4 linked regions of the Homo sapiens genome follow. The protein of the gene in region 1 purifies or fractionates together with the protein of each later gene. This does not show direct contact. Each region holds a gene or a part of one and is shown in the gene's direction. Other genes may lie near its edges. The genes, in order: SDC4, TMEM192, CAMKV and HADHB.

Region 1 (7,022 bases):
GGGAGGCCTCTTTCCCCGCTGGGCTGACATCCCCCACCTTAAAATGAAAGGTTTGAACAGGGTAGCCTCCAGAGTCCTTTCCATCTCTCAATTTGATTAATAACTTAAGTACCTACTATTCAAAAGAGGTCTCTCTCTTGAAGGAATTAACTTGAGGGAATTAACATACTCCACCAAATGCTGAATCCCTCCCTCTCTCCCCCCGCACACTGAGGGCAGGAACTCTGCTCTATTTGTTTTTGTGAAATACCTGTCCCCTAGTTTGTACTCAGGAAATGCTTGTATGAATGAATAAATTCGTGCATGTAACTTTATTCTAAATGGTTCATTACTGTTATTTATTGCTAGTATGAGTATCTCCCAGTACTGCGAGGTACCATTTTCTCTATTTTTACAGGAAATTGATGCTCGGAACAATGCAGTGGCTTCCTAAGGTCAGAACCAGGTCCTTCTGATAGGGCAAGGTGTCTGGTTTGAGTGTCCTCAGAATATTCCAGATGAGGAAATTTGCTGGGTTTGAAGGTAGATACCTTAGGTCCTACTTCTGCGTTGCTGGGTGACCTTGAGCAAACATGCCCTGTCTCTGGGTCTCAGTGTCCCCAACTCTAAAATAAGGAGGCTGGACCATTGCCTTCCAAGGGTCCTTCCTGCCCAGAGAGCCCATTGATGAGGGGAGGGGCCCTTTGCTGGCCTCCTTGGTGAAGAGTCTAAACAAATCCCAGTCTCAGAAGAGAAGTTGGGGTGGCGGGGGGACATTCAGCTCCTGCCATCCCCAGCTCCTAGAAACAGAGGGCTTTTCCAAGGACTTGGAGTGCTGAGCCTGCCTGAATGAGGAGCTGGGGAAGCCAGGCTGGGCTCCCAGCCCCATCTCCCTGTTGGGAGAAGTTGGCTCCTAGCTGTCCTTCAACCTCCCGGACTGGACAGGCGAGTGTGATTTCCAAATGAATGCTTAAAATTGGGGTAAGGGGCTGGACCGAGCGCTGTGAGTCACTGCATGCTAGCGTAGCCTGCCTGAGTCACCCATTTCCTTTCAAACTCTTGGCTAATAGGACAGCTCTGTGGTGGGGGTGTTGGAATGAGCTCAGAGTTTTACCTTGTCCTTTGGGAGTCACTGTTTCAGTGTCCGGGGCTCGAGGGGACATACAGGACATGTTTGTACTAGGTCCCGCACTTTCACAGCCCCTTGCCTGCATGTAGACTTTGACATTGTACATTGTGCAGCCAGTCCTCAAAATTGGGCTTTAGACCTCTGCAGAGCAGGTAGTACTTTTTTCCTCTTTAAGGCAAAACTGAGGCTGCAACTGGCCTGCATTTTTTCAGAGAGCAAAAGCTGGTACTGTTCAGGTTTGGTGTGACCCCAGGATTTTCTGATGTTTGTGAGGACTCCTCTTTGCTTCCTGGGGCTGGCCAGAGGGCATTGAAACATTGGCTTGGTGTTACACAGACTTAACTCCAGACGTGCGAAGTCCACCTCTTACTGGCTACATGAATTCAGTCATGCTACTCCACCTCTGAGCCCCAGCCTCCTGGTCTGTTAAGAAGATCATGATACCGGTGTGGCGAAGCTTAAAGGAGACGACAGGGCTGTAAATAAAGGCACCTAGTACCATGCCTGGTAGGGAGGAGGTGTTACTTAGTGACAGTTCCCTTCCTTGCCCAGGCCACCTTCATGCCAGGGGGTCCTATCTCTGAAGATTCTGAGCCCAGGTCTCCTGGAAAGCTTTCTCCATCCCCCTTATCCCCCTTATCTACCCCCACAGCTGGGAGGTGGGAAGGGAGAAATCTAGGGTGGGGCTTTTGGAGTCCAAATCTCCTATTTGTTTATCTTAGAAGTGGGCTGTTTGCTAATTATCGAATGGGTTTATGTTTAAACAAGAACCAGTTCTGGGCAGCCCCACCTCTCCTGCTGGGATTTGCTGGAGCCTCATGCTGAACAGTTTGCAGCCTGGAGGGAGAGGGGGCAGGGGGTTTGCCAAGGGTATCAGACCACTCTGGACACTGTCCAGGACCTGGGGTCACCCTCCTGTGCTGGAGGGGCAGAGTTTCTACCCTTAAGGAGGCTGAGTGATTGCAAATAGCACTTTGAGGGGTGGGGTGTTGGTGGACAGAAAAGGTACAGTGTTCTGAAAAGCCAGTTTCTCGTATGTTTTCACTGCATGGTGCCCTAGAGAGGGAGGAGAGAGAACACATATGTCAACAGTTGGGGTCTCATTTAACCTTAGAAGAATAAGCCTGACTTCTTGGGCTTGTTTGTCATTAACTAACACAGTGGTGACCTTGGGCACATTCTTGCATCTCACTGGGGCCTCTCTGGTCCCATCTGCTGAAGGCTGGGTGACTGAAAAAGAGGGTACAGAAAACTCCAGCCCCCGTCCTAGCTCTGCTGCTCACCCAGGGACACACACAGTTAATACGTCACTTTGTTGATGTGAACTCCAGTGTCCTCTATAAAACACCTGTGGCACTCAAAGGTCATCATCGCTGTTTGGCAAACTTGTAAAGTTCTGGCTTTATTAGCACCTAGACGAGGGTTCTTAACCCGGCCAGAGTTTGGCTTTGGGGAGGTGGTGTCTGTGCATATGTTGAAAATGTAAACTAAGAGTTACAGTTATTGGGGTTTAGACCTTTTTATCCTTTTCAGGGGGCTGCAGTACTCCCCAAAAGGTCACTCTGATCTCAGCAGTTCTTTCTGGCTTTGACCTTTCTACAGCCATCCTTCCTCCCTCCCCCACTTCCCAGCCTTGTTCTTGCCTCCTGCTTCCCCCAACCCCCACCTTCAGCCCAGACCTTCCTATTCAGCGGCCCCCACCCCTTCAGGCTGCATCTCACCCCTCCCCCTGTCCTCCAGGCCCGGGAGCTCGGCTGCTCCAGTTTTCTCTGGCACAGTAGAAGAGGCTGCTGGTCAGGTGACACCTGGGGTAATGGAAAGGGGAGGCAGGGAGAGGCTGGTATGTGTGGAAACAGTGACTTGGTGAAGCCCAGCAGTCAGTGGCCAGGCCTGCGGGGACTGGCGGTGTCACTCTAGCCTCTGGGCGTGGGGGCAGATGTGGCACATGGCTGGCCCGGCTACCCAGAGTGGGGATACTCCTTGCCTTGGAGAAGCCCTGCCGGAGCCGTCTGTGGGACAGACTGACCTGGTCTGGAGGATGGCTTCCTTGGGGGTCGGTGAGGGAGGCTGGGAAGAGGCAGGAAGCCAGCACCCAGGGCTGATCTAATCAGCTGAGATAAGGCTGCAGCGTGGGCTCTCTACTCTGCTCTGAGAACACAGGAGGTTTGTTTACATCCCGAGAGCCTCCCTAGCCCTCGGATCCAGCAGGGATTTCGGATCTGCTGCCTAGATTACAAGCTCCAACTTCAATGCACCTCTGTCTCTGAGGCCCTGAGGGAGCCAGCCCCCTCCTGGCTGTCTCCACCGGTAATCGGAGCAATGCCCAGCTTGGTTACTGGGCTGGGACAGAGGGAGGCTTGTCTCTTTGAGACCTGTCTTTTACAGATTGGAAAACTGAGGCTCAGAGAAGGGAATTGTCCACGATCATCCAGGGAGTTAGTAACAAGGGTGCTGGGTCAGCTCCTGGCAGGGAGACATCCAGAGGCTCCTGAACCCTTCCCCCATTTCTAGCTGGCACCCTAGGATCCTGGAGTTCTTGCTGTGGGAATGGGCTGCCCTGAGGCTTGGTGAAAAGCTGGTTGCAGGCAGTGCCAGGCCTGGCTCTCTCCTGAGTGATTGTGTTCAGAGTAACCCGACCTTGAAGGCGACATTTGAACCCTCACTCCACCCCCACCCCCAGACCTGGTTTAACCATTCAGGCACCAGAGCACCAGACCATGGATTGGTGTGTAGTTTCTTTTTACCTTCTAGATTTTTATTTATTTATTTTGTCCCTGGGGACCCAGGTCCCCAAGTAGAATTTCAGGTGTTTCTGGTCACTGTCATTTGCACCTTCGGGGAAAATAAAAATGGTCTTTACCTCTGTCTGCTTAGGACAGGTGGTCAAAGCTGTGTGACCTTGGGCAGGTCTCTGACTATCTCTGTATCTTTTTTTCACAGTCTGAAGGGACCTGATTGGTTGTTGAAAAGTCTCTGGGCTCAGAAGCAAAATGATAACCTATTATAGATTATATTCCTTTACAGTTTGCAAAGCACCATCTCCCTGTCCCCAGGCTAGCTTCCTTCCAGCAACAGAACTGCCTCTGCAAGTTTTCCCAGGCCTCTGATCCTTTGAGCACTGATCCCACTGGCCAGGAGGAAGGCAGGTAGGGGTTAATCACAGCCACTATTCATTGATCACGTGCTGGGTCCCTTGCACACACAAATGCATTCCTCTTAATCCTCATCACCCTGCAAGGTGCTACCAGCCCTAGTCACAAAAGAGGAAACTGAGGATTTCAGAGATGAAATAAACTCCCAAGCTCATATAGTTAGGAAGTGGCAGAACTCACACTTGTGAATCTGCCTTGATGCACAACCACTCTGGGTGGTAGAGTCACAGTTGTGGGCCCCAGGTTTTAGCCATTCTGGGGAATGTCTGGCCCTTAAGAAGTGGGTGGGGTGGGGAAGAACAGTTACGAGTAGTGTACGCTGCTGGGGGTCTCCTGCTAGAAATCATTCTGGTGGGTCCAGGTGTTGGAGCCCCAGGTACTCACCATCCCCTCTCCCCACTAAATTTGGCTTGCCCAGTTATTACCCTTCTGGTCTTGCCTCCTGAAAGAAGGGTCAAGTGTGTCCCCGACCCTACCTCCCCTGGGGAGGAGCCAGGTCGGGAGAGGCTCTCATTAGTTCACAGTTATCCAAGCCCTGACCCTGAACTCCTCTCTGGTGCCCCAGCCAAGTTTCTGTTCCTTTGTTTAAGTGATATCACTTTCACCTTTGTTTACTCCTAGGCAGGGACAGGGTTGCCCTGGAGCCCTGGCCCAGCCAGTGTGTTGTGGACTGGCGGGTTAGGCTGGAGAGAAGTGAAGAGTGGGTGGCAGTGAGAAGCCTAGTTGTGGTTGGGACGTGTTCTTGAGGAAGATCTGGATTTGAATCCCAGCTCTAGCTTTCTAGTTGCATGACGTTGGATAAGTGACTCAGCTGAACCTCAGTCTTCTCATCTGCAAAATGGGTAGAGCACCTTGCAAGGCTGTTTTGCCATTTAAATGAACTTGTATAAACAAAGTACCCAGCATGGTGCTTGGCATGTAGTGGATACTCCTTTTAGTCACTCATGCTTTTCCTGGGGTGATAGAAGCCATAGGATTTGGGGATAGGGTTGGGATAGGACCTTTTCGTAGCTTCATGCCTATAGCCAAAAGACTAGATGGGGAGTATAACTGTAATGACAGCTGCTGCCTGTGGATTTGCTGAGACCCTTAGGGGCAGCCAACACCCTGGAAGGGGAGAGAAGATAATTCCAGTCTGGGAGCCAGGATACCTAGGTTCTAAGTCCATCTCCGCTGCCAGCTGCTTGGATGACCTTGGCAAAATCCCTTGTCTTGTCTGTTTGCTAGGTTATAAAATCAGATACCTTCTGTTGGCAGGTGTTAGTTTCTGTAGAACAAAAGAGCACTTCCCCTCCCTTCTTTCTCCCCAACAGTCTGGGGAAGAATGTAGTATCTCTAAACCCCCAGGCACTAATCCCAGATCCCCACCAGCCACAGGGCCAGCAGAGTCTGTGGGACCTAGGCCCATTGCCCTATTTTTTATTTTTTGGAGACAGGGTCTTCCTCTGTCACCCAGGCTGGAGTGCAGTGGCACGATCGTAGCTCACTGCAACCTCGACCTCCTGGGCTCAAGTGATCCTCCCACTTCAGCCTCCCGAGTAGCTGGGACCACAGGCGTGCACAACCACATTTGGCTAATTTTTGTAGAGATGGGGTTTCACCATGTTGCCCAGGCTGATCTCAAACTCTTGGGCTCAAGTGAGCCTCCCACCTTGGCCTCCCAAAATGTTGGGATTAAGCCACTGTGCCTAGCCACCACTGTCTTACTTAGTTGGTAATTTCTGTTGTGTGTTCATGAAAGGGACAAAGATACAAGGAGACTTGAGAGCCCAGAGAGGGTGCCTGTGCATGTATACACACGAACACACATGCCTGGGCAAAGGTGGGGTGAGCTGAGGAGAACAGACCACATTCTTAGCCAGGAGCAGGGCGGGGTCCATCTCTGGTCAGGGCTGGGCCTGGCTGCTGGGTGGCCTGGTTCTTCAAAGTCACCCCAGACTCAATGGGCTTTATCTGAAAAGAGGGCGGAGGAGAGGAGGACCGTTGGTGCCTTCCCAACCTTTACACAAAAAAGAGTGATTGCCCACAATCCCACGGGGCTTGGTCCCGTCTTGCTGGCCTAGTCCTAAATGGCTCTTATCCACTTTGGAGTTGCCTTCCCTCTTGTCAGAGGTCATGGGTGGAGAAGGGACCAAAACAGGGCAGAGAGGGGGCTTCCAGAGCTCAAGGAGAGATTTAATTCCCTGTGTCCTCCTATCACCACTGGGAGCTGGAAGAAGTTTCTTCCCAGCCCCTTGACTTGCTGTAGGAGGGAAATCCTGGGCTCATCTAAATGCAGCCTTTGAAGACTCCATCTTTTCAGAGCTTTGAAATAGGATCGAATCCAGGCCGTGCCGCGGAGCCCCGGGGTGACTTCAGACTAGACTAGTTTCTTTTTTGGAAACTGAGTATAAAAATGAAGGGTTAAGGATGAACAGGTGCCCACAAAGAGGGCTGAACTGGGAATAAATCTTGGTTTCAGCCTTGGTTTTGCTGCTGACTTGGCTGCAAGATCTTCACGCCCCACTTTCGCTCATAGCCTTCATTTCTCTAATGTAAAACGGAGGTAATTCCTAACAGCCAGTGGGCATGCTAATCCCATGGGTTGTTTTGAAATACCTCTTAGCACTTTCACATACTGAAAGAGAGGCTGGATGCATAAACAACCTTCCATGGCTCCTGGGGGCAGTGAGGGGTGGGAAAAGGTCTCTCAGCCTGAGACAAGTCTCCTGATGGAACTACAGCCCCTGTTGAGGACTTTGACCTGGTCAACAGCTGGCCAA
Region 2 (7,664 bases), on another chromosome or scaffold:
GACAACACAGGAAAGATGGGGCTTCAGTCCAGCATCTTCTAATGGTGAACTGTTTGGTAGCATAGAGGTGGAAAGGTCATGGCTGACACTCCTATAACAAAAGCCAGATTAACAAGAGAAAAGCATAACAGATTTATTTATTTATTTATTTAAGAGGGAGTCTCGCTCTGTCACCCAGGCTGGAGTGCAGTGGCGCGATCTCGGCTCACTGCAACCTCTGCCTCCCGGGTTCAAGCAATTCTCCTGCCTCAGCCTCCTGAGTAGCTGGGATTACAGGTGATCTAATGACAATAGACTGAGTAGGGATAAGAATTTACAAGCATCTACTTTAATGCTTAGTACCAGGGTCAGCAAGGCCTGTTTGTTCAAAAGTCATAGAGAAACTTGGCTTTTGAGGCCTGCCAATGTGTCCTTCACTTCAAGTACTCAGCATGCAAAAGCACTATACTTGTGATATTATCCTCTTCTTTTTTTTTGTTGTTGTTGTTGAGACAGGGTCTTGCTCTGTCACACAGGCTGGAGTGCACTGGCATGATCTCGGCTCACTGCAACCTCTGCCTCCCAGGTTCAAGAAATTCTTGTGCCTCAGCCTCCTGAGTGGCTGAAACTACAGGCACGCACCACCACACCTGGTTAATTTTTGTATTTTTGATAGAGACGGGGTTTCACCATTTTGGCCAGGCTAGTTGCATTTTTAAACTTTTAAATCTGAAAAGTGTCTTGCTCTGTTGCCCAGGCTGGAGTGCAGTGGTGCAATCTCCGCTTCTGGGTTCAAACCATTCTCCTGCCTCAGCCTCCTGAGTAGCTGGGATTACAGGCGCATGCCACCATGCCTGGCTAATTTTTGTATTTTTAGTAGAAATGGGGTTTCGTCTGTTGGCCAGGCTGGTCTTGAAGTCTTAATGTCAGGTGATTCGCCCGCCTTGGCCCCCCAAAGTGCTGGGATTACAGGTGTGAGCCACTGCGCCTAGCCGATATTATCTTCTGAGCCCCAACACTAGGAAAACAGCTTCTCTCCTCCTCTCCTTACTCCTCATAAGTAAATAAACGCAAGAATCTTCACCAAAAGATCTTTAGTCATACAAAAATGAAGTGTCAGATACTTTTTAAATATAACTTATTTACAGGGCTATGCTTATATAAATTGCTTTAACAGTCATTAGAGCATTATATGGGCTGAGAACATATTTTTAATATATTATTAAAACAATGGGTCTGGCATGGTGGCTCTTGCCTGTAATCCCAGCACTTTGGGAAGCCGAGGCAGAAGAATCACTTGAGACCAGGAGTTCAAGACCAGCCTATAGTGAGACTCTGTCTTTACAAACAAAAAACAAACAAAAATGATTATGTATGTTAATAATGCCTTAATAAATCTGATTTAGACAAAAAATGACTAACATTTGCTTAGTGCTTTGTAGAGACAACATTGTATAAAGAGCATTACATGCATTATTTTATTTAATAGAAAATCTCTGGCTGGGCACAGTGGCTCACGCCTGTAATCCCAGCACTTTGGGAGGCTGAGGTGGGCAGATCACTTGAGGTCAGGAGTTCAAGACCAGCCTGGCCAACATGGTGAAACGCTGTCTCTACTAAAAATGCAAAAATTAGCCAGGCATGGTGGCTGACGCCTGTAATCTCAGCTACTTGGGAGGCTGAGGCAGGAGAATGACTTGAATCTGGGAGGCAGAGGTTGCACTGAGCCAAGATCACGCCATTGCACACCAGCCTGAGCGACAAGAGTGAAACTCTATCTCAAAACAAAACAAAACAAAACAAAAGGAAAGAAAATTTCTGTAAAAGGGAAACTAAAACTTCCCCACCTCAGCCTCCAAAGTAGCTGCTACTACAGGTGCACGTCACCACACCTAGCTAATGTTCTAATCTTTTGTAGAGACAGAGACTCACCATGTTGCCCAGGCTAGTCCCGTACTCCAGGCACCAAACAATCCTCCTGCCTTGGTGTCTCAACATGCTAGGGGCCATAGGCATGAGCCACCTTGCCCAGTCAGCTCCTAAGAACTTAAGCTAAGTGCCCAATATCACATGCTTGGTAAGATGCAGAACTCAAACCTCCATGACTAATTCTGGAGCCCTGGTCTTAACCAGTGTGCTGTCCCTGTGAAAGTACATGTCTTGGCTAGGTGCAGTGGCTCACACCTGTAATCCCTGTACTTTGGGAGACTGAGGCGGGAGGGTGGCTTGAGACCAGGAGTTTTGAGACCAGCGTGGGCAACATAACAAAGTCCCATCTTCACAAAAAGAAAAATCTTAAAAATAAGCCTGGTATGGATGTGTGAACATATAGTCCCAGATGCTTGGGAGGCTGAAGAGGGAGGATTGTTTGAGCCCAGGAGGTTGAGGCTGCAGTGAGCTATGATAGCGCCCCTGTGCTCCAGCCTGGTTAACAGAGTGAGATCCTGTGTCGAAAACAACAACAGAAAAGCATGTCTTGACATAATAATGAAATGAAATGTGTGAACCTTGATTGGATTCTGGTTACTGAAAAAGAAAAAACAGCAGCTGGGCCAGGCACAGTGGTGTATGCCTGTTATCCAAGCTACTTGGGAGGCTGAGGTGGGAGGATTGCTTGAACTCAGGAGTGTGAATCCAGCCTGGGCAACATAGCAAGACTCCATCTCAAAAACAAAACAAAACAAAATAAAACAAAAAAAGCAGCTAAAAAAGACATTTTGGAAACAACTTAGAAAATTTTTGCCATAGATTGGTTATTAGTAAACATGGAATTACTATTAGTTGTGTGTAATATTGATATTGTGGTTATGAAAGAAAATATAAAATATCCTTATTTTAGGCAACAAAGTATCTAGGAATGAAGCTTCATATTGTCTTCAATTTACTTTCAAGTAGTTCAGTTAAAAAATGGCCAGGCACGGTGGCTCACACCTGTAATCCCAGCACTTTGGGAGGCCAAGGCAGGCGGATCACAAGGTCAGGAGATCGAGACCATCCTGGCTAACACAGTGAAACCCCGTCTCTACTAAAAATACAAAAATTAGCTGGGTGTGGTGGCGGGCGCCTGTAGTCCCAGACCCTGGGGAGCCTGAGGCAGGAGAATGGCGTGAACCCGGGACGCGGAGCTTGCAGTGAGCCGAGATCGCGCCACTGCACTCCATCCAGCCTGGCGACAGAGCGGGACTCCATCTCAAAAAAAAAAAAAAAAAAAAAAGTATGTGAACACACACACCCACACACAGAGCAACCAAGACAAAAAATGAACAACTAATGAATCAAGTGTGAGGGGTACATGGATGTTCATTGTATTAATCTTTCAACATTTCTGTAGGCTTGAAAATTTTCAAAATAAAATGCAGAGAAGAAAATTTGCACGTCTAGAAAAGGCTTGTGATAAATAATTCATAGAATCTCAGGATTATGAGACCAGCCTGGGCAACATAGTGAGACCTTGTCTCTACGAGAAAAAAAAGAAAAAGAAAAAAGAAGATCACGTGGAGTCTTACACCATCTCTTCCTTCACTAACATTTGCGTAGTTTTATCTCACACATCCTAAACTGGATCACACTATACTCAATGTACAAATAAGCATTAGAATGTATGAAAGTGGGCAAGACGCGGTGGCTAAACTTGTAATCCCAGCACTTTGGGAGGCCGAGGCGGGCGAGTCACCTGACCTCAGGAGTTCCAGACCAGCCTGACCAACATGGCTAAACCCTGTCTCTACTAAAATACAAAAATAGCCAGGCTTGGTGGCACGCGCCTGTAATCCTAGCTACTCAGGGGGCTGAGGCAGGAGAATGGCTTGAACCTGGGAGCCGAGATTGCACCACTGCATTCCAGCCTGGGCGACAGAGCGAGACTCCGTCTCCGCCGCCCCACCAAAAAAATGTATGAGTGTATATATTCTAACTGATATCAAAGTTCTCTCCGGGAGCTGGTAACAGAAAATTTCTTTCCTTGTTTGCTTACATTTTTACAATCATGAGCTTTTTAGAAAATGTCATTGAAGTTTTTTCTCTTTTTGAAATTCAATTTTAAAAGAAACAAGGGCCCAGTGGCTCACGCCTGTAATCTCAGTACTTTGAGAGGCTGAGGTGGGAGAACTGGCCAGGAGGCCAAGAATTCGAGGCTGCAGTGAGCCGAGGTCGTGCTAGGGCACTCCAGCGTGGGCGACAGAGCGAGACTCTGTCTTAATAAACGAACGCCGTAAGCATTCCGAACTGCTTTGTTTCCCATTGGAGAAATCTGTAAATATGTCATGGAAATTGGAATCTTTATTCTGCTCCTGTCCCTCTGCTGGCGGAGTAGGATTTTACCGCTGGTTCTACCTAGGCGTAGAGCTGTGTCTGCAAACAACCAGGCAAGACCGAAAAAAGTTAATGTTCTTAAAATATGCAAGTGGAGCCCGAAAATAGTTAAATTCTTGGACTAGGAAGGCATCCTTAAATGCTCAAGTCTCTGGGTAAGAGCGCACCGAGGGGCTGCGGCCAGAAGCCCCAGGAACCGAGGTGGTTCAGGCGGTAGCCACCGCCCACAGTCCAGGTCTTCTGGGCCGGCACACCCCTCCCACCATCTCAGCCAATCGGAGCTAAGGGGGCGGGGATCGGGCCAGCCGGAGGCGGGGCGGACGCAGGAGGGGGTGTGTCTGGGGAGGGGCCTGGCAGGTCCCAGAAGGTGGCGAGTTTCGCGGCCAGAGGCTTACAGGTCCAGGTGGAGAGGCCGGGCTGGCCAGGGCTTCGGCCTCCGGCGTCGGGAAATGGCGGCGGGGGGCAGGATGGAGGACGTGAGTGCACGGAGGCGGCGGGCGGTTGGCCCCGGAATCCGCTTTTTCTTGTGCCGGGGCGCACGGGGCGGAGACTCAGAGAGGGAAGCCACCCTTGGCGACTGCGGCCGCGGCCGAAGGGGGCGCCGCCTGTGCCCGGGGAGGCCTGGGCGCGGGGCTTTGGGAGGGCTCCAGGCGGCTGTGGGATCCGCGACACGTTGGCTCCGGGCTAATTTTCCCAGTGGAGGCTGGGGTGGGCTCCTGGGCGGTGGGCGCGCGGCCCCCGGGGGTCCCAGGCTGGCGCCCAGCCCACGTGCGGGGTACGTCTTTGATCCCGGAACTGGCAGCTTCACGTGATGCGCGCCTGGCCTGACAGCCCTTCCTCCCCGCGAGTCTCCGGGAGCCGGGCCGATGGGTTCCGCTCGGACGTCCCAGGGGCACAGGGGGCGAATCTCCCTTCCTGGTGAGGTCCCTTGCCTTGGCTCTAGAGGCTGTGGACTTGGAGTGACAACGACGCTCGGGCCGGGCGCCAGCGTCCCGCAGACCTGTCGCTATCATGGCCTGGAAACCCACACGAGAGAAAAAGTGTCATGTGTTGTTTTGAATCTAGCATGGTAGGAATACAAAGGTTTTTAAATCTTTGATAGATTCAAACCAGATTACCAAAACAAAAACAAAAACAAAAAAACAAAAAACCAGTGGCCTAGTTTACAGCGTGTATAGTACAGAATGGTAGCATAATTACAAAAATCTTATTTCTTTGCTTCAGTATCGTAAGGTGTTTTTAGGAGAAACATGTATGTATGCTGAGAGTTAACTGGATTTTCCACTGGCAAGTAATAAAATTTTTGCTCTTGAGAAATGCAAAGTTGACAGTTACTGTAAAGCACTAATTTGGGTTAATAAATTAGTAGGAATATTACTGTGATCCTATCACTGAATGAACTGCATCAGGAAAAGGAAGAGAAACATGAAACAGTTCCAGCATTACGGTAGCTTAGATTCTTGTGCAGTAACCAGTTAAATAATCTTGATGAAATAAAGACCAAACAATTTCTAATGAAACTAAAATTTTCTATTTTTTCCAGTTGAGAAAATGGAAAATTAACTGTAAGACCTGTAAGTAGATTTGAGACTCATATATATTTAAAGCAAAATTCATTGTTTCTGAGTTTTTAAGGCTGAGCTTCATGAGCTGACAATGTACAGAAAAAACCGAATATGTAAGAGGAAAATGAGAGTGTCTTAGAAAAACACATGCAGTAAGTGCTTCTTGGTTGATGCTAAGCTGCTCTGGCGTTCTTGGATCTGTAGCTTTTAGCTTTAGGATGCATATAGTACTAGAAATCTGCTTCCTCAAACACTGGAGCCTGGGGATGGTCTGGGAGGCTCATGCCTGTAATCCCAGCACTTTGGGAGGCCGAGGCAGGCAGATAACCTGAGGTCAGGAGTTTGAGACCAGCCTGGCCAACATGGCAAAACCCCGTCTCCACTAAAAATACAAAAATTAGCCAGGTGGGGTGGTGGGGGCCTGTAATCCCAGATACTGGGGAGGCAGGAGAATCGCTTGAACCCGGAAGGCAGAGGTTGCAGTGAGCCAAGATCGCATCACTGCACTCCAGCCGGGGCAACAGAGCGACAGAGCGAGACTCTGTCTCAAAAATAAAAATAAATAAAAATTAATTAGAGATTAATGTTTTGCTACCAACCACATATTGGAGTCACTTTAGATCTGAGTAAGTTGCCTGCTTTTGGTATTTTGTAAACATGATTCCTAGCCTTCAAGAAAAAGCTAAAAATTTTGGACCATGCCTTAGTTACAGACACTTAAATGAGTTGAGTCAAAGACTTTGTGTTAGTAGGGATTCATTGTTTGCAGGCAGTGAAACCAACTGTGGCTAATTTAAGAAAAGGATGTATTCGAAAGGCTATAGGGTGAGTATATGCCAAGGCCTCTGAAAGGACCCAAACAAGGGCATCTCAAGGCATTGAAGTGACAGGAGTCCTTTCAGGGTCTACCCTGGAATGAATCTGCCTAAATCATGATCTTTCTTCTTTTTTTGTGATGGAGTTTCACCCTTGTTGCCCAGGTTGGAGTGCAATGGTACGATCTCGGCTCACTGCAACCTCCGCCTCCCGGGTTCAAGTGATTCTTCTGCCTCAGCCTCCCAAATAGCTGGGATTACAGGCATGCACCACCACACCTGGCTAATTTTGTATTTTTAGTAGAGACGGGATTTCTCCATTTTGGTCAGGCTGGTCTCAGGTGATCCATCTGCCTTGGCCTCCCAAAGTGTTGGGATTACAGGCGTGAGCCACCGTGCCCGGCCTCATGATCTTTCTTTTACTGCTCATGGAAAGAGTTGGATTCACCCAACTGTTTTTTGTTCCATGACCACTCCTAGAGCAGAGGAGGAGGAAGGGTATTGAAGGATGGTTCCACTAAGACTTAATGCAGAAGTAGACAGTGGGTCCTCAAAGGAAATAGAGTTATTGTCACAGAAGAGAGAAGAGATACCATGTGGGCAAAAACAACAGACATCTTCTACAGGTGGTAATGTAGTTAATAATGGAAATGAAAAAATCATTTGGATTCAGGAGTCCTCTTCCCCTCACCCTTCACTTGCAGATGGTGAGTTAATAGAATGACTGGGTGCTGTTTGTATGGTTACACTGCATATTTCCTATAGGATTCAATGGAAAGTAAATACTCCTGAGTGACATAGAGAAGAACCATATTATAGTCCCCAACTCCTTCAGTGTAGTTAGGAAAAACAAAAGATACACCCATGAAAAGGAAAACAATACAAGGCAGCATAAGAAATATTCCAAATGAATATTATGGGCAATAAGTTTTATAGGATTTTAAAGCAGAAGGAAAACACTTAACAAGGCCAGTTTTATAGAGAACATAAACTT
Region 3 (7,531 bases), on another chromosome or scaffold:
ACTGGGACCCTTCCAGGACATGGCGGCCGTGGTGATTGATACAGGCACAGGATTCACCAAATGTGGACTGGCGGGAGAGGACCATGTCCTCAGTGTCATACCCTCACGAGTTCAGCTGCTGCAGCACCCAGCCCAGGGCCAGCCACGATATGCAGTGCCTGAAAACCAAGTGGGATCCTATTCAGTGCTGAACCGTGGTGTGGTCTATGACTGGGATGCACTAGAGGTGCTATGGCAGCACCTGTTCTATTGAAGGCTGGGTGTGCAGCCCGAGAAGCTGTCTGTGCTCGTAGCCGACTCGCCCATCTCACCACTCACCAACCGAGAAAAGGTGGCTGAAATACTCTTTGAGCATTTCCATGTCCCAGCCATGCAGACAGTGCATCAGGCCCTGCTGGCGCTCTATGCTTATGGACGTACCACTGGGCTGGTGCTGGGCAGTGGCCATGGCACTTCCTATGTGGCACCCATCCTCACTGGGGATCTGGCCCCACTTGACACCTACCGGCTGGATGTGGCTGGTGCTGACCTTACTGACTACTTGGCCCAGCTGCTGCAGAGAAGTGGCCACTCACTGCCCCAGGCAGGACTGATCAACCAGATGAAAGAGGCCTGCTGCTACGTGGCCATGGATGTGGCAGCTGAGAGGGCCCACACCCAGGCGCAGGCCGAGGTGGACTTTGTGCTTCCAGACAAGCAGGTTATCACGCTGGGGCCTGAGCGCTTCTGCTGCCCTGAGGCCCTCTTCCAACCCAATCTGATAGGTCTCAACCAGCTGGGCCTTCCACAGCTGGCCCTCCTAAGCATCAGCCGGTTGGAGGCCAAGCAGCAGGAGCAGCTACTGGCCAATGTGGTACTGGACGGTGGCAGCACCCTCATGAGTGGCTTCCCTGAGCGCCTGAGACAGGAGCTGGGCCCTGGTGCCACTGTGCTGGGGTCTCCCCACCGTGCAGTTGCTGCCTGGCTTGGGGGCTCCATCATGGCATCCCGGAGCTCTTTCCAGAGCCTGTGGCTCAGCTGCCAGGAATATGAGGAAGAGGGCCCATGGGCTATCTATAAGTACCAGCTGTGAGCATATAAAAGTTCTGGTTCTGCTTTCTTTAAGCACCGTGGCATGTTTCAGCCACAGGGTGGTGTGGGAAAAGCAGGAGTCCAGGCATGGGGTCATGGATGGGGGCCCTGGCTCTCTCCAAAGGCATGCCCTGCCTCTGCACTCTGGAACTCCATGGGCCCTGGCAACCTACCCTTTCTAGACAGCCCCGGAGCCCCTTGACTGGCATTGGCTCTGATCTGGCCTGACCTTTACTGCACCCCAAGGGCAACCACAGACAGTGGCTGCTGTGGGTTTTGCCCCGTTGCCCTGACGACAAGTGCAATTACCCTTGATTGCCAGCTTGTTGCCATGGCAATTTCAAACATAATGTAATAACCCACACAGCCTGGAGTGAGTCACAAGGTGGGGGGCGGGGGGCAGCCCCCTCCCCTGGCTCCAGAGGAAAAGACTGCTTGCCCTTCCCCATTGTGGGCCCTCTTCTGGGGACTGAAGCCAAGCAACATGGACAACAGTCAGGCAGTTTCAAAGATGGCTGGGGGCCTGGGGTGGGAGGGTTCTGTCAGAGTTCAGGCTTCTTGGGGAGCTGCACTGGTAATCTAGGTACCTCCTAGAGTCTGAACCTTTGCTGGAGCGCTATGCTGGGTTAGCAGGGGCTTCTATCAGCCAGCCAGAATCTAAGGGCATAGGAGTGCCGGCCTTTGGCACCCTAGAGCTGGGAGTTGGGGGCACAGATAAGTCCTGGATCCTGGGTAGGAGGCCCAACCTGAGCTGGGGGATGAAGCTCTGTGGATACTGCGGCTCGCACCTTATTCTGCCCCTCTGACTTTCTAGCTTTGGTGGGAGCCAGAACTACGAACTTGGGCCCTCTTCTCCTCCTCAGCCTCCCAACCCAGGCAGCCCCTGTCTTCAGGGTACAGGCCTCCTTAGGAGGGTCCTCATAAAGGCTACTAGGCAATGCTAATCTGGATTGCCTCTGCTCTTGTTCCAAACTCTGGTCTGTGCTAAAGGGCCTCCTGCCATCACTCTGGCCAGTGGAGTGGTGAGAAATCATGTCCCCTGACCCCGTCTGGCTTTGAATAGTGGAAGTAAGAACAAAGCTCAGCATTGGTCCCGTCCCTGCCCTGGAAGAGCTAAGAGGATGGCATTCAGCTGATGTTACTATCTCCTGCCTGAAAGGCAGCTGGAGGTTGAAGCCAAAACATTGAAGCCGGTCCTACCCTGCCTGTGCCTTCCTGTCTAGGGGCTGAGGGATAAGCCATGGCTCAATCCTAGCCCTGGGTTCTTGTCTTCAGATTGCCCTCCACAAATGGCAAAGACTTGTCTATCTTCACATACACCAGAGATCAAGGGGCTGCTCTGGTGGGGAGCCTGAAAACAGCCAATGATGTAGGGTCAGCACAGACCCTGCCCACTGCTGGACATGGTCCAGCCCCCTTCCCATGTCCAGCTCTCAAAGCCTGATTCAGCCTCCACAATCCTGAGACTTGTGTCAGGCAGGAAGGGGACTGATAACTCCAGGGACCAGCTACAGCGTCCACACACACGTGCCAGCAAGCATGCCTGGGTGCACAAAGAATGCAGACACACGTGCCCCTGGGCACCACTGCATACACTGTGCTGTTGCATCTCCCTCGGCAAAAGAGAGCATACACAACACGTACACGTGTGCACACACACCCTGCCACGTGCTCTCACCCACATGCACAGAGCGTGCTTAGGACCAAGAAGAGGTGGAGTACTGCCAGCAGCAGGCAGGGCGCTAAGGAGCCACCCCTTCCCCTGCCTAAAAATCCCCATTCCAGCTTCTCATTGACCCCCATGCCTGGATAGCCATGACCCTCAGGAAAGACAGAAAACATGTATGTGGCATGTGTGGGGTCAGCAAGCTACAGCTTGGCTACACCATAAAACTCAGAGACCCATTGTTTCAAGAATAGTGGGCAGATGGCAGGAAGGACTCAGTGCCAGGCCATTCATTCATTCTGCAGACATCAGCCGAGCATACTGAGATGAGAAACGGGTTCTGCCTTGCAGATACCCAGCCTGCCAGGAGATTCCTACCCAGTGGTGGGGTGGGTCCCATAACCCGAGACCACTCAGAGCCCAGGGACCCCAGAAGTGGCACCAGCCTGGCCTAGAGGAGGTAACACCAAGCCAGGGAGGAAGGTGAAGGGCTCAGTACCCCCTCTGGAGGAAAATTTTGAGGAACCTTGTTTGAGGCGGTCATTTCCTAAGCTAGCCTTCAGTCTGAGCCCCAGCCCCAGCTTCTGGACTTGGACAGTCCCTCCTGTCATCAGCCATGGGTGGCCAGGGCAGCCTCAAGATGGCTGAGGGTTTGGGGATGACCCCAACTCCCTCTCCCACAGCAGGGTCAGGAGGCTCACTGGGAGGAGTGAGGTGGGATAAAACCCAGCTCCAGACACTGAGAGGCCTGAGTCTGGTCTTCAGATACTGGCCTTAGGATGGTCCTCAGGGCTTGTGAGGGGTGTGGGTCAGGCTTTGGGTCCGTGAGCCTCACTGACAAGGGACAGAGAAATGGCCAAGGACTTCCTTTAAAGCTTCCTCCTGGTGGTTCTGAGCCTCCTCCCTCTGATTAGCACCCAGGCCAGGTGGGATACCTTGGTGCCACAGTTCTCCTGTGTCCCCATATCCCAGGCCAGGCCACTAGAGTGATACAACTCATGAAGTGTTTGACAGTGATTAGACTGAAAAGAAAGCAGAGGCCACACCATGTCACAGGTGACTTTTATAGTTTGGGAAATTTGGTGCCACACAGGAAGGGGCTGACTGTGCTGCCACCCTTGCTGGTACTTATGTTTGGGAAAGACTCTGGCCTTGCAGGAGTTGGGGATGGGGTGGGATAGGAGACTTTGCTACTACAGTCTAGGGCCCTCACTGTTTTCACACTGACTACCTGCAAACACACACCTCTGTGTGTTTACTGCTCCTAGCTAGGGGATGCGTAGCTAGGGGATGCTAGGGGATGCCACACTGACTACCTGCAAACACACACCTCTGTGTGTTTACTGCTCCTAGCTAGGGGAGCCTGCCCTAGCCCGACTGCCCATCTGGTTTTTCTAAGTTGGTCCTGCCTTTTGGGTCGGGTTCGGGGAGCTGGGCAAAGCCCCGTTCCCTAGAGACTAATGACTGGCAAGCGATCCTATGCAGCTCCAGGACTCAGGCTTTCCCCCAACTCTCCACTCACCACCCCTTACATTGGGCATAGGAGGCCTCCTCCGGCCCCAGGCTGAGGGCCTAAGGGAGCCATTGAGAACCTTGGCCAGGGCTAAGCAGGCCAGTGCTCACCAGCACCGCTGCCATCCCGCGCGCTCCTGCTCTCCAGTGGGATTCTGCCCTTAAGGCTCCGCCAGGGTCGGGGCGGGGCCGGTTGGGAGGCCCCGCCCCCAGCCCGCCCCCGGCCCGGGGTGCGAATCCGGTGCCGGCAAGCGGCTGGCGATGCTGGAGGTTCGCTAGCCGAAGCGGCTGCATCTGGCGCCGCGTCTGCCCCGCGTGCTCGGAGCGGATTCTGCCCGCCGTCCCCGGAGCCCTCGGCGCCCCGCTGAGCCCGCGATCACTTCCTCCCTGTGACCAACCGGCGCTGCAGGTGCGGGGCGGGCCGGGCTGGGGGCGCTTCCCGAACGCAGGTTGTGGGGCCTTGGGGGATTGTTTCCCTGGCTCGAGGTGCGGGATGCAGAGTGCGCGGGGGCGCAGCGAGGGCTCGAGGTCCTGGCGGGGTCAGAGCGCGCGGGCTTTGCAGATTTGGGGGAGGGAGTGCGGGGTCGGGCTAAAGTTCCCCATTACCTCGGACGGCTTGGGGGTTCTGGGGGGAAGCTTCTGCGGCTCGGAATTGTGAAAAGATTAACCCTCGAAGATTCGTGGTCCCCCGTGAGGATAGGGGCCGAGAGCTGAGCCGTCCCTCCCCGTTCCCAGAGCCGCCTCCAGCCCCTCCCAACTGTCCCCGGGCCCCTTCCCTCCCGCTTAGCAGTCACTAATTTCCATGACAACGGAGAGTTCTTTATGGGCGACAACCCGGAGGGGGCTGGGCGGGGCTGCCGCGGGGTGGGGGAGGAAGCTCCAAGCCCCTGGGGACCAGCAGCCCCCCAGCCAAAATTCAGCTTCCAAGCCTTCACCTGGGTGCCAGCTGGGGGTCCAGTGCATGGACCCACGTGCACGGTGGGGGTGGGGGCGCACATGTTCCTGCTGGGAGGTGCGGGGCTTGGTGCTCACACGTGTGCTTTCCGCATGTGTGTTGCTGTGCCAGCGGGGGCGAGCCAGCAGCACTTGGGAAAGGGGTCAGGGTGGCAGCACGGTGGGGAGCAGGGCCCCTGGCTGGAGGTGGCTGGGATAGTGACAGCATGAGCTTCTGCCTTCCCCAGCTTGTACTGTTTGGCAGAGACCCTGGGCTCTTGAGCCCCAGCCCCCTCCCCGCATAGCTCTGCCAAATTGCTTTTGTCCGCACCTCCCAGGCAGATCCTGCTCCACCAGGTTCCTTCCTAAGGATCAGGGCCCTCTGTCCCACACTAAAAGCTCAGAGTCTGCAGTAGTCCAGTCCCTGTGCTGTACTCCCCTTACCCCCAAGTCCAGGCTTTGAGCCCCCAGGACTACCTTTAGAGACCTGGTGCCCTCCCCCACCCTCAGAGTTGATTCCTGGCAGCTCCAGCGACTTCTGAGCCTCAGTTTCCTCAACTGGGGAACTGGTGTCTCCACTCAGAGTCAGGTTGGTTTCCAGGGTGGGGCAAGGGTCTCCCTTTTCTAATATTTGGTGTGGACCCTTCAGGTGCTCTCCTAGGCTGGCTGTTCACATATCTCTGATGGCCCTACTCTCCAGCCCCATGCCCTGGCCACCATTCACAGGCAGGCAAGCAGTCCTCTGCCCTGGGAGAAGGCCAGATTCCATGGTTTCCATTAGGGGAAACTGAGGCATGGGGAGGTGAAGGGCTGTGTGGTTATCCTGTTTCTGGGTTGCTTGTGGTGCCGTTTCTGGCACTCATGGCAGGATCTGCTGTTGGGGGTTGGTGAGAGGGGATTAAGCAGAGCTGTAAGAGGGGCTCTGGGGACCCAAAGCCTGGAAAGGATAGCAGATGGGGGAGGGGTTGGCTGGGAGGGTCTAAGTACAGCTGGGCCAACTGAGAAGAGGGACTATAAAGGGAAGCAGCCAGGCATCCGAGCCTCATTTCCATACCCCTATGCGTCTGCCTTCAACATGTTGGACCTGCTTTACCTAAGCTGCCGTGATGGCAGAGAGACGGGCTGGGAACTGTCCTGACTGGGGGGCTGCAGCAGCTGGCCTCTTCCCCACCAACATGCTCCAAGGAGCTGGCCTCCTTTTGGCTGTGCCTCCTACACCAAGTTCAGTGTATGTTTGGGGGATACAGGAGGGTGCAGTCTCGAAGGTCCCAGTACCATGGATAGCTCCTGGCCCAGGGATTTAGAGCACATCGCCATGGAGGCCTTAGGGCTCTGCTGGGCACCCATCCGCCCCCTTCAGAACTCCCGTCCACCTCCCCTTTCCTGCCCTTTGTGCCTGTGTCCCTTTTACTTTGTCATCTCCTTGCTCCTCTTCCATCACAGGTTCTGTCTTTGTCTGTGTCTCTGCCCCATTCTCTTTTTTCTAAATTCTCTCCATCTCCCCACCTCCCCTTTCTTGATGGGGACCTGGGTCACAGAACCTTGAAGAAGCAGCCAGGCTAAGGTCTCAGGAAATTCTTGAAGAAGGGACCTGACCAACACATCTCCCCTCCCCCTCCCCTTGTTTTAAAACTTCCATCACCATAGCAACCCTTTACTCTAGTGCCTTCCTCTGCATTTCCCCTCCTCCACCCACAGGGAAGCAGAGCCTCCAGTGGATTCTCCTTCAGGGGTTCAGAGATTTGGACCCCAAGTGCTTGGGAGGAGACAGCTGGCCTTTGGCTTTGCCTGCATGTTGACAGCTAAACTTTCGGGATGTAGCACTGGACTGCATGCCCACCCCCAAAACTGGAGAGACCTCCCCACAATACTCCCTCATTAGATGGGCAAAATTCAGCTGTAGGAACTTCTACCATGATTTAGCTCGAGCCGGAGGCTCAGTCAGGGCAGCCCCTTGACCGGTCCCCTGAAGCAATTGGATGGTGGTCTAGAAGCTTGGCCCTTGTTCTTAACAGACCTTGAGGGAGGTCTTCAGCTCCCCTGGTCCTGTGGGTGACACCTCAGCTGTGAGTTAAGCAGGGCTTGGGCTTCAGCATGTTCATTGCAGCAGGAAACCCAGCCCCAGCCCTTGAGAGAGTAGAGCAGCAGAGAGGAGGGGGTGCCTGCAGGCTGGTGTTCACAGCTGCCACTAAATTAGGAGGTGTTGCCTACAGTTGTTGGGAGGCAGCTGGAGGCCTCTTGGGCCCCTCCTGGCCTCCCTAGATTTACTGCAAGCTCTGGAGCCCCACGTGGCAGGGGACCAAGGTAGCAGGAAACTCTGTTTATGTCTATGAAAGGTAGGGCCTGAAC
Region 4 (7,022 bases), on another chromosome or scaffold:
CAAACAAATCATCTCTGATTTCTTTATTTTATTACCAAAGCTCACCTCTCTATTTTTTTACCTAGGGATTTTATGTATGTGTCTCAGGATCCAAAAGATCAACTATTACTTGGGTAGGTAGCAGTTTGTATCCTTGGACTATAATCACAAGTATTTGATTGCCTATGTTTTATTATACTGGTTAATAAATGATTAACACTGGTTTATTATTTATTTGTTTATTACACTGGTTTGAGAGTATATTAAGCCCTGAGTTCATAATTGGTTTATGTGGTGGTTTTTTTAAAAAAAATAATAGTAATCTGGCCGGGCACGGTGGCTCACGCCTGTAATCCCAGCACTTTGGGAGGCCGAGGTGGGCAGACCACGAGGTCAGGAGATTGAGACCATCCTGGCTAACACGGTGAAGCCCTATCTCTACTAAAAATACAAAAAATTAGCCAGGCGTGGTGGCGGGCGCCTGTAGTCCCAGCTACTCGGGAGGTTTTGGCAAGAGAATGGCATGAACCCGAGAGGCAGAGCTTGCAGTGAGCCAAGATCACGCCACTGCACTCCAGCCTGGGCGACAGAGCGAGACTCCATCTCAAAAAAATAAATAAATAAATAAAATAGTAGTAATCCTTTCCATTGGTATATCATGTTACAGTTTTGGATTATTTTCCATTTTTTTCCTATAAGTTTTACATATATATATGGACACACACAACTTATATTCTTTTTCATTAAGATAGCATATGCATTTTTTCATATGGCTACACACCCTGCTACACAATCTTCCTAATATAGCCTTTTATAAAAGCCTCCCCATGTTTAGACTCTGTTCCGTTCCCTCACAAGGCTGTAGCCTCTAGCCTCCACTGTGACGTTCACATCAGTCAAGCCCTTTCCCTTGCCTTGCTCTTTGAACTCTGTTCTTCCAGTTCTTCATGTTATTAGCTTGTCCTTATCCCTCACTGTTTATTTATTATCAATTTCTCTGACTCTGCAACATAAGAGTAGAGGGCATGTCTGTACAGTTTCACTATTTTATCTTTAACATTTCATTAATCAGTACAGAAAAATCAAAGAATGAGTGAAAAGACATTAGAGTACCTATGTAAAACTCAGTTTGGGGAATATGAAGGAGCTCTTAGTTTAAAAATTAAAGTTTTAAGATATTACTTATTTTTTCTTTGCAGACCAACATATGCTACTCCAAAAGTTCTAGAAAAGGCAGGATTGACCATGAATGATATTGATGCTTTTGAATTTCATGAAGCTTTCTCGGTAAGTAATTTGAAAGACACATATGAAGGGACTATAGTCATAAAAAATGTCATCCATATTTGTGGGAGAGAGCAAGGCATGGTTTATGATGTGAGTAGAGCAGGAGTGGACCTGCATATTTTAAGTACTGATTCACACTGCTGGGAGGGGCCCGAGGGGAGGGAAGCAAGGGCCACACATACAGTGTTGGAGAACATACCAAATTGCTTCTTTAGGAAATTGCCATTGAAAACTGATACAAAGATTTGTTCAACTTTACTTTTTTTTTTTTTTTTGGAGACAGAGTCTTGCTCTGTTGCCCCAGCTGGAGTGTAGTGGCACGATCTCGGCTCACTGCAACCTCCGCCTTCCAGGTTCAAGCAATTTTCTTGTCTCAGCCTCCCGAGTAGCTGGGACAAGCAGGCGCCTGCCACCATGCCCGACTAATTTTTTTTATATTTTTAATAGAGACAGGGTTTCACCATATTGGTCAGGCTGGTCTTGAACTCCTGACCTCAGATGATCCACCCGCCTTGGCCTCCCAAAGTGCTGGGATTACAGATGTGAGCCACTGTGCCTGGCCGATTTGTTCAACTTTAAACCATACCTAAAGTTGTTAAACTTTCACAAACCATTCCTATAAGAAAGCGTAGAGGAACATGAATAACGAGGTTCTTATTCGATTATTTTCTCTTCCAGGGTCAGATTTTGGCAAATTTTAAAGCCATGGATTCTGATTGGTTTGCAGAAAACTACATGGGTAGAAAAACCAAGGTGAGTTTCTAATTTTAAAAAATGCGTGAATTTTCAAAGCACGTTAATAATTGGATCTTAGTTACCTGTTCTTAAGAATATGAAGGGAAAGCTTCTCTTTCTTTTGAAGAATTTTGTCTTTCATTAAAGATATTTATTTCTTAGTGTAAAAGTAGAAATTCTTGTATTTCATTAAATATATTTATTTCTTAGTTTAAAAATAGAAATTATTTAGCAAAAATAAAATTCTGTGTTTTTTGTTCCTTGCATTCTGACATTAGATGAAAAATAAATGGACTCCTGACTTTTAATATTGACCTAGACTTACTTTCTTTTGCAGTAAAATTATTTGTAATATGTCTGACGTTACGTATTTTCCTCTATCTCTCTTACTTCGTAGTACTAAGAGCCTAGCTTGATTCTGATCTTAAGTAAACTTATCTTTACATTTGTGTCTTTGGGGGAGCCAGGTTGGATTGCCTCCTTTGGAGAAGTTTAATAACTGGGGTGGATCTCTGTCCCTGGGACACCCATTTGGAGCCACTGGCTGCAGGTTGGTCATGGCTGCTGCCAACAGATTACGGAAAGAAGGAGGCCAGTATGGCTTAGTGGCTGCGTGTGCAGCTGGAGGGCAGGTACGTTACAGTGGTGTCATAGGACCCTCCAGAGAGTCATTTTCTTGGAATGACTAGAATGTATGATTTAGTTTGAAACCTTCTTAAAGCAATATTTTTGATGACCTGGGGGTGGGGAGTGGGGAGGGATAACAGCTGTAATTCTGATAAAACTTTTTGTTTTTTGGGTTTTTTTTTTTTTTTTTTGAGACAGTCTTGCTCTGTCACCCAGGTTGGAATGCAGTGGTAATATCTTAGCTCACTGCAACCTCCACTTCCCGGATTCAGGTGATTCTCGTGCCTCAGCCTCCCGAGCAGTTGAGATTACAGGTGTGCACCACCATGTCCAGTTAATTTTTGTATTTTTAGTAGAGACAGAGTTTCGCCATGTTGGCCAGGCTAGTCTCGAATTGCCGACTTCAAGTGATCCACCCTCCTTGGCCTCCCAAAGTGCTGTGATTACAGGCATGAGCCACCATGCCCTGCCATAATTCTGATAATTCTTTGGAAGGAAACAGCTATTTAAACCCAAGCTATTTTTCCCCAATATAATGTTTATTTTTTACTTATAAATATATGCTGATTATGAAAATTGTGGAATATATGAAAAGTATATAGAAAAAGTTAGAATCATCTATAATCTCCCCATCAGACATTAACATTATTAACATCTTGATATATTTTCTTCTTTAATAATTAACTTTTATTTATCTAGTCACCATAAGACTTTATAAAATCTCTCCAAGAGAGAAACTATCTTTCTAGAGAACTGAATTATACCTTAACTGGGGAGTTAATTTACTTCTGGATAACTTACTGCTGTTCAGCTGGGGAAATATATTGTTGACAGATTTTTTCCTTTCTACTTCACTTGCATTAGAGACCCAACTTCCTGACTGCTGTAGCATCTCACTCTAGGAATAAAATCCAAAAGGAAGATTGTAGTTTGTTTTTTGTTTGTTTGTTTTTTGAGACAGAGTCTCACTCTGTCCCCCAGGCTGGAGTGCAGTGGTGCCACCTCGGCTCACTGCAACCTCTGCCTCGCGAGTTCAAGCGATTCTCCTGTCTCAGCCTCCTGAGTAGCTGGGATTACAGGTGCTCACCACCAAGCCCGGGCAATTTTTTTTGTATTTTTAGTAGAGACGGGGTTTCACCGTATTGGCCAGGCCGGTCTCGAACTCCTGACCTCAGGTGATCCGCCTACCTCAGCCTCCCAAAGTGCTGGGATTACAGGCATGAGCCACTGTGCCTGGCCTGTTTTTGTTTTTTTTTTTTTTTTTTAATCCCGATGTGAACAGATTTTCTCTTCCTCTAGATTACAGAAACTTCCTGTTCCTGATCAAAATGAATAAATATTTAAAAGCATAAACTGGCCGGGTGCAGTGGCTCACGCCTGTAATCCCAACACTTTGGGAGGTTGAGGCGGGTAGGTCACTTGAGGTCAGGAGTTCGAGACCAGCCTGGCCAACATGGTGAAACCTTGTCTCTACTAAAATTATAAAAACTAGCCTAGTGTGGTGGTGTGCGCCTGTAATTCCAGCTACTCAGGAGGCTGAGGCAGGGGAATCGCTTGAACCCGGGAGGTGGAGGTTGCAGTGAGCCGAGATGGCGCCATTGCACTCCAGCCTGGTGACAGAGAGAGACTCTGTCTCAAAAATAAAGTAAATGAAATAAATCTTACGTTTAAAAGCCCTTTTTCATGGATTTTCCTCAGAGACTTTGCAGAAACCAAGGGGTCAGTTATTTATCAGTTGGAACATTTTGGACTTTATGATCACAAATGCTTTTTAATCTGTGTAACTTCATCTACAGAAAACCATGGTCCATTAAGACTAGAGCGATCCCTCTATCTCTTCATGCCAGGCTTCTACCAGGGAGATAACCTGTACACATTACTCACGAGCATAGTGCGTAATCCACATAGGGTAATGTCTGCAGATTTGAGTATGTGTTCCCTAATTCTTTATCTAGCATGTAGAGTATAAATAACACAATACTGGATGCTTTTATGGATGAACAAGGAATAATACCTAGCACCTTTCTTCTAGAAGTTTATAGTATGAAGAGAGAAGATAAGATGCATCTGAGAAACTAGATTAAACTTGACATTGTTTGATCAAGAGCCACGTGAGCAATACCAACATGGTTGGAGACAGAGGAGAAATCCATCGTGGTGAATCTAGAGCAGGGTTTCTCAACTTTGGCACTAACATTTTGGGCCAAACAATTCTTTGTTTTGGGGGGCTGTGTGTTGTAGGGTGTTTAGCATGGCCTCTACCCATCGGATAGCAGTAGCAACAAGCTCCTCCCCACCTCTGCCCCAGGTACACACGGTTGGTATAACCAAAAGTATCTCCAGGTGTTGCCAAATCTGATCTAGAGCAAGAAAAAACATGGAACATGAAAACAGTGTGTTTAAAATAAAGCCAGAGAGGGCTGGGTGCGGTAGCTTATGCCTGTGATCGCAGCATTTTGGGAGGCTAAGGCAGCTGGGTGGCTTGAACGCAGGAATTCGAGACTAGCCTGGGCAACATGGCAAAACCTCGTCTCTACCAAAAATACAAAAATTAGCCAGGTATGATGGTACGCACCTGTGGTCCCAGTTACTCAGGAGGGAGGTGAGAGGATTGCTTGAGCCCGGGATGTTGAGGCTGTAGTGCGCTGTATTCACGCCACTGCACTTTAGCCTAGGTGACAGAGTTGCCTTGTCTCAAAAAGCAAATAAAGAAATTAAAATAAATAAAAAATAAAATAAGCAAGCCAGAGAGGAGTAGTCTACCTTATTATGAATTCTTTCAGGACAACCCCCAAGTCAGTCAAACCTTCCTATCCCTGCTCTTTTTTTGTCTGCTTGTGCCTTTTCAATGTACTTAACATGCCAGGTGTGGTAGCTCATGCCTGTAATCCTAGCACTTTGGGAGGCTGAGGTGGGCAGATTGCTTGAGCTCAGGAGTTCGAGACCATCCTGGACAACATGGCAAAACCCCATCTCTACTAAAAATACAAAAACTAGCTGGGCGTGGTGGTGGGTGCCTGTAGTCCCAGCTACTCGGGAGGCTGAGGTGGAAGTATCACCTGAGCCCGGGAGGTTGAGGCTGCAGTGAGCCGTGTTCAGGCCACTGCACTCCAGCCTGGGTGACAGAGGGAGGCCCTGTTTCAAAAAAAACAGAAAAACCAAGTACTTAACAGTTTGTTTTGAACTCCAGTGTATACTTGATTGAGGACAAAGACCATGTGGCAAATCTTTAAACCTGCAGTGTTCAACTTGGCACTTTGTAAATAATAGTTTCTTTTATTTACTTTTTTGTTTTTTAGAGGGTGTCTAAAAATTCTATGCTAGGATTTAGACTCATCTAAACTAAGGACATAGCTAGTACATAGCACTGTGCATAGTGCTGGATAAAAGATATTCTACTTCTGGCCGGGCACAGTGGCTCATGCCTGTAATCCAGCACTTTGGGAGGCCGAGGCAGGCAGATCACGAGGTCAGGATATCGAGACCATCCTGGCTAACACGGTGAAACCCCATCTCTACTAAAAATACAAAAAATTAGCCGGACGTGGTGGCGGGCGCCTGTAGTCCCAGCTACTCGGGAGGCTGAGGCAGGAGAATGGCGTGAACCCGGGAGGCGGAGCTTGCAGTGAGCTGAGATCGCGTCACTGTACTCCAGCCTGGGCAACGGCGAGGCACGGTCTCCAAAATAATAAATAAAAAAAATAAAAAAAGAAAGATATTCTACTTCTTCCCTTTGTGGTCCCTCAGATCATTATCTTAACCTGTGTAGAATAGTGAAGAAGGGACAAGCCCAGCCTTTGGAATCATCTAGACCTGGTTTCAAATCCTGGCCCTGTTACCTTAATAGCTTTGTGATTTGGGTGAGTCACTTAACCTTTCAGAGCCTCAGTTTTCCCCTCTAGAAACTTACTTTTATTGGTATTTGCTGTATCATGTTTATGTTTATACAGTTAAAAAAGCCCCTGGATTTCTCATTTTAACAGCATCCATTTGTAGAGCATCACTAGGAATTAGATTCTGTACTAGACAGAGCCTGATGCATATATGTATACATGTATATATGAATGTATATAAATATATATGTGTGTGTATATATATACACACATATACAAATATACTGTATGTTATGTGATGCCCACAAAAACTCTATGAAGTAGACACTATGAGCCCCATTTTGTAGAGGAAATTCCAGTTTAGACTGACTACAAACTTTCCCAAGATCACAGTGATTGATTGGCAGAGCCAGGATCCCACTCCAAAGCCTGTACTTTTCTCCTTGTTCTCTGCTGTCCCTGTACTAGGTGGATTCATCACCATTCATTGCTCTAATTGGACTTTGTTTTCTTTACAGGGCCATGCTATGATAGTGGAAGCTTATCCAAAATAATAGATCC

What was found.
Region 2: the proteins of SDC4 (region 1) and TMEM192 purify together in Homo sapiens (co-immunoprecipitation; 2 studies listed by BioGRID and IntAct, with this or other methods). This does not show direct contact.
Region 3: the proteins of SDC4 (region 1) and CAMKV purify together in Homo sapiens (co-immunoprecipitation; 2 studies listed by BioGRID and IntAct, with this or other methods). This does not show direct contact.
Region 4: the proteins of SDC4 (region 1) and HADHB purify together in Homo sapiens (co-immunoprecipitation; 2 studies listed by BioGRID and IntAct, with this or other methods). This does not show direct contact.

The regions. Positions count from the first base shown.
Region 1 is NC_000020.11:45,338,407-45,345,428, reverse strand, and holds part of SDC4 (syndecan-4 precursor), read left to right. Parts: intron 1-7,022. UniProt on the Homo sapiens protein: Cell surface proteoglycan which regulates exosome biogenesis in concert with SDCBP and PDCD6IP.
Region 2 is NC_000004.12:165,109,849-165,117,512, reverse strand, and holds the start of TMEM192 (transmembrane protein 192), read left to right. Parts: upstream 1-4,652; 5' UTR 4,653-4,739; coding exon 4,740-4,766; intron 4,767-7,664.
Region 3 is NC_000003.12:49,866,885-49,874,415, reverse strand, and holds the start of CAMKV (caM kinase-like vesicle-associated protein), read left to right. Parts: upstream 1-4,509; 5' UTR 4,510-4,658; intron 4,659-7,531. UniProt on the Homo sapiens protein: Does not appear to have detectable kinase activity.
Region 4 is NC_000002.12:26,282,939-26,289,960, forward strand, and holds part of HADHB (trifunctional enzyme subunit beta, mitochondrial isoform 1 precursor), read left to right. Parts: intron 1-65; coding exon 66-113; intron 114-1,178; coding exon 1,179-1,266; intron 1,267-1,944; coding exon 1,945-2,019; intron 2,020-2,468; coding exon 2,469-2,633; intron 2,634-6,979; coding exon 6,980-7,015; 3' UTR 7,016-7,022. UniProt on the Homo sapiens protein: Mitochondrial trifunctional enzyme catalyzes the last three of the four reactions of the mitochondrial beta-oxidation pathway.